2 separate regions of the Homo sapiens genome follow, and region 1 is linked to region 2. Evidence: fine-mapped expression QTL. Tissue or cell type: tibial artery. Region 2 holds a variant in brackets; the other region holds the start of a gene. All regions are shown on one strand. Distances are between the middles of the regions.

What was found. PIP is the estimated chance that this variant, and not a neighbour inherited with it, causes the effect.
Region 1: it holds the start of GMDS-DT, and the variant in region 2 is fine-mapped to the expression of GMDS-DT in tibial artery (GTEx, PIP 0.99). The same link has a PIP of 0.9 or more in unexposed skin.

Annotation. Positions count from the first base shown.
Region 1 is chr6:2,242,500-2,250,604 of GRCh38, forward strand. GMDS-DT (GMDS divergent transcript) reads left to right here and starts at 3,254. Exons shown (of 7, transcript NR_046229.1): 1 at 3,254-3,431; 2 at 6,338-6,427. It overlaps GMDS (GDP-mannose 4,6-dehydratase), which reads right to left and starts at 3,106. Exons shown (of 11, transcript NM_001500.4): 1 at 2,822-3,106. The coding sequence starts at 2,923. RefSeq lists an enhancer at 2,748-3,248 and a silencer at 2,749-3,378.
Region 2 is chr6:2,395,020-2,403,124 of GRCh38, forward strand. It overlaps GMDS-DT (GMDS divergent transcript), which reads left to right. Exons shown (of 7, transcript NR_046229.1): 5 at 3,558-3,759; 6 at 3,847-4,018. Among named protein-coding and RNA genes, the nearest start is that of GMDS-DT, 150 kb to the left of the region's middle. The variant G/A (reference allele first, on the strand shown) is at 3,846.

The DNA.
Region 1 (8,105 bases), 150 kb before region 2:
GCACTATTCTCAAGCGGGAATTTGGGACAACCCATTTAAGAGCCCATCTTGGCACAAATGCCATGATAGCCCCAAGTGCCAGAGCAGTGGCATTTGAATCTGAAATCTCTTCTTAGAGTAAGACTATTTATTTCTCTCTGTCTCATAAGGCTCACCACAGTCTGTATAACAAAATGACTTACAGCAACTGCTGAGATCTGGGTTCAGATCTCAGTTCTGACACTCATTAGATGTACGACCTCAGGGAACATATTTAACCTTACTTAGCCAGGGATAAATGGGGATACTTATTATACCTGTCTCTTAGGTAGGGATATACAAAATGCTTAGCAGAGTGAATAGCTCAGTAAGTTCTCAGCCAATATTATTAAGAAAACATACAATAAGGTATGGATTTTCAGACCCCTTGCATTAACACCACAGTGCTCCAGAGATCCTTGATACTCAAGTTGGGAGTCACTGTCCTGGAATACAAATAAAAAACATAAAAGAGCAGTAAATTCCATCTGCAAGTGTTTATGTGGTAGCTACAGAATTCAGCACTATGCTAGGGGTACAGAAGCCAATGCAACACCAAATGAGGAGACAATGCAGAGGGCAGATGCCGGAGGGAAGAAAGAAACACTGGGGCAGAGATTCAACCCAACCTGAAAGCCATGCAGGTGTTTTAAGTTGGAAATGAAATGAGGAACCAAAAAATTCCAGTCAGGGAGTGGTCTGCTGAGTGTGGTGCTTCAGGTAGACTCCCATGACAGGCTGCAGGACAAACTAGAGTGGGGGCCCACTTCCATACCTTCCTGGCCACTCAGTTCCAGCCAAATGACTGCTCTTAAAAGTCAAAATTAGGTTCCATTTCTAATCTGCACTGATTCATACTGCTGGTCGTGTAAATTGGTATAGGCCACACCAACACAGCACATTAGTTAAGATGTTAATCTTAACTAATTTCCGGACAATACTAAAATAAAATCTCTACTTTCCAGAGATTAGGTAAACTTGGTAAACATTTGAGCTTCAGGTCCAGTCTGACAAAATGGAAAAAAGGGAATCATCTGCAGAAAGGTCCCAGCATTAGAAAACAAAGAGAAGGGGGAGGACAGTATGTAGGCCCTGACCTGTCTTACTGCCTCAATTCAAGGATTCAATTTCTCAACCTCAGATCCTTGCCCTCTTACTAGTTTTCAAACTCAGATCCACCTCTTACTAGTTTTCAAACTCTTGTCTATTATGATTACCTTAAGCAAAGCAAGATGCATGAATAACCAGCAGTAAATCAGGTATTCAATACTTGAAATTGTGTAATATTCTGTGACTGTGCATCTGGCCAATTTCAACTTCTCCTTCTTTTTTTTTTTTTTTTTTTTTTTTTTTTTTTTTGAGGCAGGATCTCACTCTCTTGCCCCAGGCTGGAGTACAGTGGTACCATCATTGCTCACTGCAGCAGCCTCAGACTCCCGGACTCAAGTGATCCTCCTGCCTCAGCCTCCTGAGTAGCTAGCACTACAGGTGAGCACCAACATGCCTGCCTCATTTTTTAAATTTTTTTGTAGAGACAACGTCTCAATATGTTGCCCAGGCTGGTCTCAAACTCCTGGCCTCACCTCGAGCAATCCTTCCACCTCTGCACACCGAAGTGCTGAGATTTCAAGTATGAGCCGCTGCCTCCTGCCCACTTAGCCCTTTCTAACACTAGAGAACTTTGAGAGTGGTTTCAATACCAACTGGACACTTCCCAGCGGTTTAACCTCAGGCAAATCAAACTCCCATGCCTCAGTTTCCACATATATAGAGATAATAAAAGTACCTCCTCAAAGAGTTTGTTATGAGAACTAAATGAGTTAATGTTAGGCAAGCGACTGGAACATGATAGACACAATATGTATTAGCCATTATCACCTTTATCTCAGTGTTATATTGGCCACCACCCAGAGATACCCAGGAGCACACACATCACATTCTTTCTACAGCAATATGTGGGCACGATTACTTCATGACCACTGAATCTAAAACAGCACAGCTTGGTAAGACACAGCGGTCGGATCCCACCTACTGCAACACCTCTAAGAGGCGACCCTCACAAACCAGCCATGCTTAGCCTGAGACATTCCGAAGACCTCCTCTTGATTACCTTACTCGACGAACTTATTCCTTTGAAAATGGAACTAGCCGCACTTTTGGACCAGTGTGCCTCGGATACACTTCCAAATGTGTCAACCTGAATCTCAGAAGTTGGCGTGATTTTAAAAAGTTTTTTAAGTTCTTTTTCCTAAACATGTCCTAGTAGGTGACTCCACAGCATTACTTTCTTTCATGTTCTCTTTTCTATCTGGAAATCCGGTGATAGGGGACGAAACCAGCAAAGCACCCTTTTTCTTGCTTCCCAAACGTTAGCAGGTAAGCGCCCCTTGAGCCGAGACACATCAAGAAGACCTCACCCGCAAGTTCATTGATCACCGGTTCTTTTCCCTTTCCGGCACTAGGAGCTGCGAAGCACGACATGGGCTTGGAGGAAGAGACGCTGCGGTCACCTGAGGGGCAGGTGAGAGCGGGCGGTCCTGCCCGGGTGTGAGCGCGACATCCCGCGCGGCACACACGCTCACAGCCCCCAGAGAAAGACCAGAGGCGCTCGATGTATCCCGCACACCCCACACGCAACACACTAACTGCACCGTACCTTCCGTCCCACCTCCCGGCAGCAGACCCCTTCCGGGACGCCGAGAGGGCTGTTCCTGGAGAGACCGCAGCCCACGAGTAGCGGCGCGTAGGGAGAGCACGCGTGCCCAGGCTGCCTCGGCCGGCGCGCCCCCGCCCCCGCACTCACCTGGCCTGTGATACCGGTGATGAGCGCCACGTTCCTGGGCTTGCCCATCTCGCCGTCCCCGGAGCCCCGGGCGCTGGGGCAGCGTGCCGGTGCGTGTGCCATGTCCCGCGGCGGGCGTGCGGTCGGCGGCAGGGCGGAGCGCGGCAGAGGGCAGGCGCGGTGCCGGCAGGAACGCGGGGGTGTGCAGCACGAAGCGCCTCTCCAGGCTGCGGGCAGGGAGGGAGAGCGCACCGCGCGACCGGCCGCCACAGTCTGACAGGGGCGCACGGGAGGCCGTGCAGGGAGGGCCGGGGGCGGGCCGAGCCGGCCAAGGCGGGCCCGACGGGCCAAGCAGCGGGGCTGCGGCCTGACTGGCGCAGCGTCATTCGCGTCAGCCGGCGACGCTGTAGCAGGCCCCGCCCCTCCGCCGACGGCCACCGCGCGGGAGGGGCGGGGCCTGCCGCCGCCACCGCCTCAGGGAAGAGGAAGGAGGCCGCGGCTTCGCGTCCCGCCTCTCGCCTGGCTGGCCGTGGGGGGCCTGGACGCAGTGGCCTCCCGAATCTCCCAGGACCCTAATATCGCCCGAGGATGCTGGGAGGAACGCTGAGCCGACCTCTCCGTTAGGCTGAAGGTCTGAATTTTCAAACCCAGGGGTCACAGGGCCGGGGTCATGGACTTTGATAAATAATTCCTGGAAACCTGTTGCAGTGCCCTTTGAGAAGCCCGGTTTATGGTACCTGAAGGGCAGTAGCGTACAAGGCCCGTAAACGGGGGTCACAGATGTGGGAGTGACTAACTAGGCTGGCTCTCGCTCTTCTGGCCTTTCCTGAGGCTCGGAACCAGTAACGAGGTTCCAAATAGCTGAATTCAAAGTTTTCTCTTCTGAGGACTGCCAGTGCACAAGAAAGTCCCTAGCCCCACCCGTATGCGGCATAAGGAAATGTTGAAAAGACTGCCCGGGTCAATAAACCTGGACGTGGCAGATTTCAAAGAAAGTAATTCAAACACAGGTGGGGTCCCGGCTTACATCTGTTGGATTTGGCTGCCATTTGGCAGCTGCTCGTTGGACAGGGAGAGGAGAGGAGGTGACTCAGAGCCGGGAGGGCAGCAGGTGTGTGTGCCTAAGCAGTTGGCTGCAATCCAGGACACAGACGGAAACTTCCCGGTCTCCGTTGCTCTGCTTCTCTGTCCACATTCCTCTCCCTAATCGATAACTTCAGATCATCATTTCAAATCACAGAGTTACTAGGGCTGTGCCCAATATAACGTGCAAGAGTATGTATAGCAGACCTGGAACCCCAAAATCAGAAAAGCTCAGGATTACATTTAAAACCTCCCTCTCGCGCTCCTCGAGGTCCGTTAGGAATATTTCTTAGCTATAGATAGACTGGTCTGGTTTCACACCTGGCCTCTCCTCTGCGTTCTATGAGGAGAATGGCTCAACAAACATCTGATGGTGCCTCTGAGTGATGAAGAGACCCTGAAGCTGAGGAGAGGGAACACTTCCATTGAGAGGAACATGCTATAAGCTAGAAATGTCTGTGAAATATACGGGAATATGCTAAAACTATACTCATTTTCATGTAAATACGCTTTAAATTAATGCATGAGCCAATTATTTAACATTTTCCTTAAAAAAATCACTGAGCAAGCCGGGCGCAGTGGCTCACGCCTGTAATCCCAGCACTTTGGGAAGCTGCGGCAGGTGGATCACCTGAGGTCAGGAGTTCAAGACCAGCCTGGCCAACACGGTGAAAACCCGTCTCTACTAAAAATACAAAAAATTAGCCAGGCGTGGTGGTGGGCACCTGTAATCCCAGCTACTCTGGAGGCTGAGGCAGAAGAATCGCTTGAACCCGGGAGGAGGAGGTTGCAGTGAGCCGAGATCTTGCCATTGCGTTCCAGCCTGGGCAAGAAGAGCAAAACTCCATCTCAAAAAAAAAAAAAAAAAATCACTGAGCAAAACTGATACTTATGGGAGATATGACACATTTATCCTGTAGTTTTGAGACCTCCTATCACACAAACACTGGAAGTTGACACCAGTCAATTTCCTGTCACACCACCAAACACCTGCCCTAGAAGTGTGTGACAGTAGAAGAAAAATGGAAAAAAAATCAACATTATTAGGGCCTGAAAATATTTATAAAATGATGGGAAATGGTAGGTCAGAGGAAGCTTGAAGAATAAAGGCTATTTCTCTAGAGAACTTTTCTGAAGACAGGTGGTAGGTCTGCTACAGCAACGTACCATCCATAGGGTGACAAACGATAGAAATTTATTTCCTCACAGTTCTGGAGACTGGAAGTTTAGGATCAAGGGCTGATTTCTTCTGAGGCCTCTCTCCTTTTCTTGTAGCTGGCTGTCTTCATGTTCACATGGCGTTCTCTCTGTATGTGTGTCTGTGTCCAAACTTCCTGTTCTTATAAGAACACCAGTTACATTTGATTAGGACCCTCTTTAATGACCTTATTTCCAAATACAGTCACATTTTGAGCTACTAAGAGTTAAGACATCAATATATTAATTGGGGGAGGGACAAAATTCAACCCATGATTGACAGCTAGAGGGAAAAAGAGGTTCTTTTTTTTAACTGTTTGTGGGCTCGGAGGGAGGAGGTTGGTAGTGGAGGTTGTTGTCATTTTCCCAGTAGCATTAGGGCAACTTGAACAACGTCAGCACAGGGTCTGGGGCAGCATAAGAAGATTACATTAACTAGAAGTAAAGCGACCAGCGGTAGTGGAAAGCTCTAAGGGTGATGGCTCAGTTGTGTTTTCCTCTAACACAGTTCTCATCCCTGGGTGATTTTGCCCCCAGGGGACATTTGACAATGTCTGGAGGCATTTTTGATTGTCACAAATGGAGTTGTGCTATAGGTATCTAATGAGTAGAGGTTAAGTATTTTGCTCACCATCTGCAGTGCACAGGAAGCTCCCACAACAAAGATTTTTCTAGCCCAAAATGTCAATAGTGCTGAGGCTGAGTAACCCTTCTCCAGGAGGCCAGTGAAAGATGTTAACAAGCGGGTGGTTGAACTGACAGACACTGGCTATACTATACAGTGACTTCATGGTATGTCAGAAGAAGCAAATACATTTGGTAGCTAATTGTTGATGCTGATACCTTTACTCACAAACTTGGCTAATCTCCAGAAACATACTAGCTGCTGAGGGTATAGCAGTAGAGGAGAAATAATCTTCAAGGGGCTATAATCTGAAAGGGATATGATATTGAATCATTTTATGACTTTTCATAACATTTTCATATTTGTTTTAATATGATACAAAATATAGAGAAAAGAGTGAGGCCTCCAACTCCAAGTCCTCTAATTGGATAAAAGTCAATCATTCTGTACAAGACTAAATATGTGGAATAACATTTTTCACTTCTTTCTTTCCCATCTCTTGCCACTGAGTGCATGCCAGTTATTCAAGAACGATTCTCCAGCATTCCCTTTAAAATTCTCTCTCCTCTCCTTTTTTAAACATTTCTTTCCTTTGCTTTTCACATGGAACATTTGCTGATCTTCTTTCTCAGATTGCACAAACCATGCTAATGGCCAGCATGGATGGAGGGAGCGTGTGAGATGTGTGGGGCAGCGTGCTGCATCTCAGCCAACTCCAGGAGGTAAGTGCGTCTGCTGTGGTGAAATCTATATTTGGTCTTCATTTCTGTTTTCCTGGCATATGATTTCTAAAATGCTTAGAATCACCAAAGCGATGTATTTTGTAGGGTAATGAGTGAGTTCACTGTTGGCTGGCAGCCCTTAGGTGGCTTCAGGGTGGAAACTGGTCATTGTAAAGACCAATGCAGGATTAGAGGGCTGGGACTTTCAGCCCCATCCCCTAACCTCCAGGGAGGAGAGAGAAGCTGATGGTTAAGTTGATCACCAACGGCCAACGATTTAATCAATCATGCCGACATAATGAAGCCTCCATAAAAACCCAAAAAGGACTGTGTGCAGAGAGTTCTAGATAGTTGAACACGTGGAGGTACATGGAGGGTGACGCTTCAGGGTGGGCACCAAAGCTCCAAGCTCCTCCTATTCCTTGCCCTGTACATCTCCTCATCTGCATCCTTTGTCATATACTTTGTCATACCAGTAAACTGGTAATCCTGAGTAAGAGATTCCCTGAGTTCCGTGAGCCACTCTTTCAGATTAATAAACCTAAGAAGGGGGTCACGTGAAGCCCACTTTTTGGCCAGTCAGAAGCACAGGTAGAATAACCTGGGGCTTGCAATTGGCATCAGAAGTTGGCGGGGGCACAGTATTGGGGACTGAGCCCTTGACCTGTGGGATCTGATGCTATCTCCAAGGAGACAGTGTCAGAGTTGAATGGAATTGAAGGGCACCCAGCTGGTGTGCCCTATAGAATTGATTGCCTGCTTGTGGGTGGGAAGAAATCCCATGCATACTTGGTCACAGAAGTCTTCTCTGTTGATTGGTGTTTTGTTAGAGCAGGGGAAAAACAATTTGAGTTTGTCCACACTCAGTATGATAATGATCTTTATTTCATAGAGTCAGAAACTGAGGATTGGAAACATTAATAAACTCGCCCAAGGCCACATAGCTAGTGGCTGGTTATGGTAGATATTATGCTCATTCAACTCCCATTCCATACTCTCTTTGGAAAAATTAGAGTGCTCAAAGCCACATGTCCCAGACCATTTTGCATCTCATATATAGGAAGCAAATTGAGCTTTGTCAATTAGATGCGTTCCTGCTCAATCTGGCAGGTGGAAGTGAAACAGAAGCCATCCTTCTGCTTTCTGGTCCAACTGACATGAGGATTAACGGCAGTTAGAGTCCAAGTTTGGGTCTAGTCACCGTTTTCATGGGCATGAGAGCCACTTGGGTTGGGGGAGCAGCATGGCAGCAGGAGTGGTTTTCTGAATTCTGGCCTTCAGCTATGGTGGTAATGTCCTGACATCAACAACTGAAGGCCCTCCGAGTTCTCTTCCTCTGTCTCATAAATATTTTTTTCAACTAATAATTGTAGATTCAAATGTATTTTTAAGAAATACAGTGAGTGACATGGTCATGTCTTCAAATACTATAGAGCAATAGCACAAGCAGCATATTGGCGTTGATAGAATTCACCAATCTCATTCAGATTTCCTCAGTTTTTGTACTCATTTGTGCAAGAGTATGTGTATTTACTTGTGTACCGTTTGGTTTGGTTTGTTTTGCCTGAGACAAGGTCTCACTCTGTCATCCAGACTCACTTGCAGCCTCAACCTCCTGGGCTCAAGCCGTCCTCCTGCCTCAGCCTTCTATATAGCTGGGACCACAGGTACACACCAC
Region 2 (8,105 bases):
TATTCTTGCTTTTGTGGGCGGCCATACAAATCATGTGCTGTGGGGAAGTCATGTCAATCATTTCACTGTCTACAGGATTCCCTGGAAGCTTGAAGCAATTTTTCAGATAATTAAGTCCACAGAATACTTTTTTTTCCTCAATGATTGGGATATCTCAAGTGAGTCAAAACTTTATTGCGATTGCCTCAATTCTCCATTTTCCTGGTCATATATCAAAAAAGACTTTCTGCTTCCTATATGTGGGGCTTAGCATCCACATTGTAATTCACCAGAGACTCTCTGGAGAGCTTGGCTTGGTCCCATGTATCCTAGTACAAGCTTGCCACTGGTCTAAGTTAGAAAATATACAGATTTGGGGCCCACAGAAATGTCCAATTTTATACTTTTTTTTTTTAAATGGAGAGGAGTCTCTGAGTGAGAGAGGATTTGGAAAAATGGCCAGCAGATAACAATAACAATAGTGACTAACATTTATTGAGTACATACCATGTGTTAACTGTGTGAAATAATTTTCATGTAAACCTTTTGGCAACCTAAGGTTGGCAGCATGGAAGCTTTGAGAGTGTAAGTTTCTTGTCCAGAATTTTATAACTAGAAAGTGACAGAGCCTGGATTCCAACCTATACCCATGGACACCAGAGTGTCTATATGTGTCTTTCCAGTGAGCGATGGTTCACACTCATTGGAAACATGAGTGCCATTGGAACATACTAGTCAATATGATGCCGAAAACAGTAACAGAAAGAGTGCAGGTGTTGAATACGTGTTCCTTTTCACACTGGAAAGAAAGATGGTGAGAAGTTGGCATGTCTTCCACGCAATTCCATCCCATCAGCTGGTCTCCAAATTCCCACTCCTCTTGGTTCCCACTTCTCTTTGTCTCTTTCCAGAAGGAAACAAACTCCCTGATGACCCTCACTGAAAATTCACAAACTTTACAAATTTCAATAGATTAGCTGTGGCTTCTTTTTAAAATACTCATAGGTAGCTGGGTCCTGGAGAGCTCTAAAGCCCTCTAATTTTGCTTGCAGACGGAAGAAGGGAAACTCGAGTCACTGGAGACAAAGGGGCAAAGGCATGGGTTTGGCGGCAGAGGGAAAGAAATGGTCTGTGACCAGGGCTTAAGCTGCCTGTGTTGGCTCTGAGTGACAGTATGCTCTTGCTCCAAGGACCTTAATTGGCTGATAGAGTGATTGCTTTGGCCAAAGGTCCAATTAATACTCAAGATTTGAGGACTGGTTTTCCAACCCCAGTTGGATGACTTTCCTGGCAAGCAAAGGTTACCGCTGTAAATTCAACTTGCTTCCTTAACTGGGCACCCACTCTATAATGTGAGGCTATCATTCTGTCTGGTTAATTCCAGACAAGACTTTGTGAGCAGATGGGGAATTTGGATTTTCAAATTCGAAAAAAAAAAAAAAAAGCATAAGTGAGTGTGAGTTTTATGTAGTTACCTCGATGCTCCACCTTGTGGAAAATGTGCTAAATCCCAATGTAGGAGGAGGCAGGATTGCAAATGTGAAGCAGAGTGGTTGGCCCAGGGGTTTATGCTCACTGAGAATGTTCTCATCAATAGCTTGCTGTGATTGGCTATGGACCTATTGAAATCACCATTAAACTAGAAAACAAAGTTACTCAGCCCTCGTGTGGAAAGTGTCTAAGACAGTAATGCAGAGGCCGTAGTCTGAAGGTGGCACCTCGCACTACAGAACAATGGTAGGAGCTCCAGGTTCGGATCATGGTTCTGAATTTACTAGTTGTGTGCACTTAAGTTGCTTAGTCTAATTAATAAAGCAGGGATGATAATTCCTCTTTACAGCTTTGTTGCAAGGATTGCATTAAAGAAAACATGTAAAAGCATAAGGGCATTCAATTAATGTTACAAGAGCCCTTCCCTCAACCCCAAGGGCGGCTGCAGCTGTTCAGCCTGACACTTTATGTGTGTTGGTCACAGTGCTGTCTTGGAGAATCACATACGGGATAGTGCTTACCTCCCCATAGCAGCCACGTCATAGCAAATAGCTCATTAGCATGCAGTTTCTTCCCTCCCTGTTCAGCAGCCCAGCAGACAAGCTGTCTCAGAGCCTGGATTTCAGCATGTTGCACTCACCGCAAATATCCTGCAGGCTGCCCACTCCATTCTGCTGCCCTTCGCAAGGCTTCACTTTGCCCTCCAACCCTTTTTTTCTCTTGTTTACCAGATGGAACGAAGTCTGTTTGTGGAAACACCCTTCCCCTCTGTTTACTTGGACCTGATTTTGAAAGTAACAAGTCACTTTATTTGGGCTGGAGGAAAAAGCACTAAACCAGATGTTGAGGTGACCGGGATTCCTGGAAGACATTCTTCTCTCCAACGAGACACATGATGCATGAAGTAGGAGCCCCTGGCAAGGAGCCCAGGCTGCCATGGCCTCGCTCGCTCCTGCTTCCCGGCATGGCCCCGAGGCTAGCTGCCTCTGTACTGCCTGAGCATCGTCCCCTGGCGTGTCACCAGACTACCCACTACCTGTGCTTGCACCTGCAGGTGGGCAGTTCAGTCGTTGCAGGCTGAAGCTCCCTGTCACAGGAGTCCATCAGCACTGGAGTTTACCAAATGGCCCAGTCCAGGTCTGTGTCATATTGTTTTGCAAAAGCAAGAAAACTCATTCAGAGCTTGTTACTTTTATCCCTGACTTCCTAAGTGAGCAGTGTAGCCAGAGAACTACATCCCCTGACATCCTTTAAGAGCCATGACCACTCCTGCCCTTGCTTTGTGACAGGCACTCCTGGATGCTGAAGTGCTGTTGCTGTGCACCACTATGCATCCTGTGTGAGGATGAGCACTCCAGTCCTTGCTCCCTCTTCCCGTGGCTGGCTCATTAGCCAGAGCAAACTGTGGCCTTGAAGGAGCAGAAGGAGCATTTGACTCTTCCCAGCTCTCAGTCTTTGGAAAATTGAGCAAAGTGGAATGAAAGCCATTTATTCATTTAACTGGCAGTTATTTATTGAGCATCTATTATGTGGCAGGCACCGTGGTGACACTGAAAAGAGAAGGGTGAACAAGGACAGTCCTGAGCTCAAGCAGGCTGCTGGCAGGTGGTAGTGGGGGCAGACAAGCAAAGGGGCACCCATGCCATGGCCTGCAATGCACCACCTCCAGGACAAGGTTTGGGACCCATCCCTGGGTCTTGGGGGACATTCTAAAAGGAAGCAGTGGCTCAGCATAGACCTGAAGGACAAGAAGGCACCAGTCATGTGTGGAGTGGGTTGGTGGAGATGCGCAGAGTGCAAGGAGGTCTGGAGGTGAGACCTCCAGGCAGAATGGAGGGAGGTGTGTCCCATAGCATGTGGACTCTAAGGGGCTGGGAGATCTTAGGGGTCCCTGGAGGCTGACTGAAGGCTGGCCAGGGAGCCTGCCTGGTAAGGGCCTCCAAGGTCAGGTTTGGGTGTAAGAGTAGCCATTTCTAGCACTGGTTGAGGTGCACTTCCCTGTCAGTGCCCCAAAATCCTTCAGCAGTGTCTGATACGATGTTCTAGACTGGCATTGTTTCCAGTGCAGGCCCTGTCTCATTCTTCAGGAAGCATGCTCATGGCAATACCCGGAGTCTCCACTGCAAGACCAGAGTGACGGAGGCAGCAGAGCTCCTCAGCAGGCCAGGAGTCTCCAGAGGCACTGCCGAATGTCTAAGAAGCAACCTCATTGTATTCCCAAGACCTGGGAATCCAGGTCTCGCAGATACGATGATACAATCTATAGCCAGGACATCTCTTCATGTGTAGGTAAGTAGGGGATGGGGTAAGTTCATCTGGTGTTTCTAGGCTTTCTTGATTTTCTATATGCCACTGACGCCTTTCACCTTCATCCA[G/A]TTTTCAATGAATACTAGGATAAGCAACTATCCCAGTCTTCCCAGGATTGAGGGGCTTCTCCAGATGCTGCACTTCTGGTGCTAAAAATGAGAAACTGAAATGAATTAGTCACCCAAGGAATGCTGACCCTGTGCTATATGATCACATTTACTCTTTAAAGCAATGCTTTGAGGTAGGTAATATTATTTCCATTTTAAATAATTTATAAATAAGAGATAAAGTGTGATTCCCAAGGCCATTATCCAGTAAGTGATAGAGACTGGGTTTAGGTTATATTGTCTGATTTAAAGCCAGTATATTTGTTATCTGCATAATAAATTACTCCAAATCTTGGGCTTAAACCAACAATACGAGTTTATTAATCCATAGTTTCTGTGGATCAGAAGTTGAGGAGCAGTTTAGCTGGATGGTTCTGGCTCAGGATCTCTCATGATAGGATCTCTCCTCATAGTATTGGGGGCTGTGGTCATCTGAAGGCCTGACTGGGGCTGGAGGACCTGACTTCAGGATGGTGCACTCACATGGCTGCTGGCAGGGAACTACACAAGAGACAGGCTACCATAGTGACTGTGTATCTGATGCTTCCACAGCTACCCCTTAGGACTCTAAGTCCTAGAATTGGGACTAGAAGTGGGGATTAAAGGGATTCCATAGGATGAGATTGACTAAAAATATATATACATGAATAGGCATACACAGGAATATTCATTATATGTGTAAATACCATCATTTGTATTCAGGCACACCTTGTTTTATTGTGGCTTTATTGCACTTCACAGATATTGTATTTTTTTTAGAAATTGAAGGTTTGTGACAACCCTGTGTTGAGCAAGTCTATCAGCACTGTTTTTCCAACAGCATGTGCTCACTTTGTGTCTCTGTGTCACATTTTGGTAACTCTTACAATATTTTGAACGTTTTTATGACTATTATATCTGTTGTGGTAATCTGTGATCTTTGATGTTACTATTGTAATTGTTTTGGAGCTTCATGAACCATGCCCATATAAGATGGCAAATTTAATTGATAAATGTCGTGTGTGTTCTGACTGCTCCACCAACCAGCGTCTCCTTCATTTCTCTCCCTCTCTTCAAGCCTCCCTATTCCCCAAGATACAATAATATTGAAATTAGGCCAATCACTAAGCCTACAATGGTTTCTAAGTGTTCCAGTGAAAGGAAAAGTTGCATGTCTCTAATTTTAAATTAAAAGCTAGAAATTATTAAGAGTGTGAGGAAGGCATGTTGAAAGCCCAGACAGGTTGAAAGCTAGCTAGGCCTCTTATGTCAAACAAGCCAAGTTGTGAATGCAAAGAAAAAGTTCTTGAAAAGTTAAAAGTCCTACTCTAGTGAACACATGAATGATAAGAAAACAAAACAGCCTTAGTGCTGATAGGGAGAAAGTTTGAGTGGTCTGAATAGAAGATCAAACCAGCCACCACATTCCCATAAGCCAAAGCCTAATCCAGAGCAAGGCCCCCAACTCTCTTCAATTCTATTGAGTAAGACTGTTCTTGTGTTGCTATAAAGAAATACCTGAGGCTGGGTGATTTGTAAAGAAAAGAGGTCTAATTGGCTCCTGGTTCTGCAGGCTGTATAAGAAGTATGGTGCTGACACTTGCTTCTGGTGAGGGCCTGAGGGAGCTTTTGATTGTGGCAGAAGGTAAAGGGGAAGCAGGCACATCACACAGTGAGAATGGGAGCAAGAGAGGGAGTGGGGGCTGCCACACACTTTTAAACAACCAGATCTCACCAGAACTCACTCACCCTCATGAGGACAGCACCAAGACATGAGGGATTCACCCGCCATGACCCAATCACCGCCCACCAGGCCCCACCTCCAACATTGGGAATCATATGTTAACATGATATTTTAAGGGGACAAACATCCAAACTGTATCATCTGTGAAGGCTGACAGAGCTGAGGAAGCTGCAAAAGAAAACTCTGAAGCTATCAGAGACTGGATCGTGAGGTTTAAGGAAAGAAGCCATCTTCATAACATAAAAGTGCAAGGTGAAGCAGCAAGTGCTGATGGAGAAGCTCCAGCAAATTGTCCAGAAGACGTAGCTCAGATCACTGATGAAGGTGATTACACTAAACAATAGATTTCTAAGGTGGATAAATCAGCCTTGCATTGGAAAAAGATGTCATCTAGGACTTTCATAGCTAGAGAAGAGAAGTCAATGCCTGGCTTCCAAGCTTCAAGGGGCAGGCTGGCTCTTTTGTTAGGGGCTAATGCAGCTGGTGACTTTAAGTTGAAGTCAGTGCTCCTTTACCATTCCTAAAATGCTAGAGTCCCTATGAATGATGCTCAATCTACTCTGCCTGTGCTCTATCGGTGAAACATCAAAGTCTGGGTGACAGCACATCTGTTTACAGTATGGTTTACTGAATATTTTAAGCCCTCTGTTGAGACCTACTGCCCAGATTAAAAAAAAAAAGATTCCTTTCAAAATATTACTATTCACTAACAATGCACCTAGTCACCCAAGAGCTCTGATGAAGATGGAGACGAATGTTATGTTCATGCCTGCTAATACAACGATCTATTCTGCAACCTGTGGATCAAGGACTAATTTCGACTTTCAGTCTTATTATTTCAGATATACACTTTCTAAGGCTATAGTTGCCCTAGACAGTGATTCCTCTGATGGATCTGGGAAAAGTTAATTGAAAACCTCTGGAAGGGATTTATCATTTTAGATGCCATTAAGAACATTTGTGATTCCTGGAAGGATGTTCAGAAGTTTGGAGGAAGTTGATTCCAACCCTCTTGGATGACTTAGAGGGGTTCAAGGCTTCAGTGGAGAAAATCACTGTAAATGTGATAAAAATAGCAAGAGCACTAGAATTACAAGTGAAGGCTGAAGATGTGACTGAACTGCTGCCATCTCATGATAAAGCTTAGATGGATGAGGGGCTGATTCTGTGGATGAGCAAAGAAAGCAGTTCCTTGAGGTGGAACCTACTTCTGCTGAAGATGCTGTGAACATTGTTGAAATGACAGCAAAGGATTTAGAGTATTACTTGAACTTGCTTGATAAAGTAGTAGCAGGCTTTGAGAAGACTGATTCCAGTTTTGAAAGTTCTGGGTAAATGCTATCAAACAGCATTGGAGGCTACAGAGAAATCTTTTGTGAAAGGAAAAGTCATAGATGCATCAAACTTCATTGTCCTAAAGAAATAGCACAGCCACCCCAACCTTCAGCAACCACCACTCTGATCAGTTAGCAACCATTAACAGTGAGGCAAGACCTGCAAGCAAAAGGGTGATGACTTGCTGATTGTTAGCATTTTTAAAGCAATAAGTACTTTTTAATTAAGGTATGTACATTGCTCCTTTAGACATAATGCTATTGCATACTTAATAGACTACTGTATAGTGTGAACATAATTTTATATGCACTAGGAAACCAAAAGTTTGTGTGATTCCCTTTTTTTTTTTTTGCAGTAGTCTGAAACTGAACTCACAATATCTCCAAGGTATGCCTGTACTCAAATAAGTGTGCTTTTAAAATAATCACCATTGGCTGGGTGTGGTGGCTCATGCCCATAATCCTTAGCACTTTGGGAGGCTGAGGCGGGTGGATCACCTGAGGTCAGGAGTTCGAGACCAGCCTGGCCAACATAGGGAAACCCTGTCTCTACTAAAAATACAAAAAAGTAGCCGGGCGTGGTGGCAGGTGCCTGTAATCCCAGCTACTCTGGAAACTGAGGCAGGAGAATTGCTTGAACCTGGGAGGCGGAGGTTGCAGTGAGCCAAGATGGTGCCATTGCACTCCAGCCTGGGTGACAGAACAAGACTCTGTCTCAAAAAAAAAAAAAAAATCACTATCTTGGTAGTCTACATACTTGCTCTAAGGAGGTTTCCATCACACCAAATATTTTTGTTTGGATATTAATTATGGATAATAGTTTATTCCTGATTTTCCAAACTTTATAATATCAATGAATATATCATTTTATAATCACAAAAACGTTTTGTTCCAAGTTTTATAATATAAACATATGTATTAATTTTATAACCAGATGAAAGCTCTTTTAAAAAACATTTTTATAATATATATTAACACATATATGATGGATACTGCTTGGATTTCCACTTATGTCTTTATAAATAAGCAGCCTGTTCAGATGTTTCAGAAGGTAAAATATATACTATTACTAACAGATACAATCACATATAGAATTGTATATTCCATTATATGTGCAAGTATGTACACCATTTCCTGGAATTCAAATTGGTGGGAGGGTAGGGA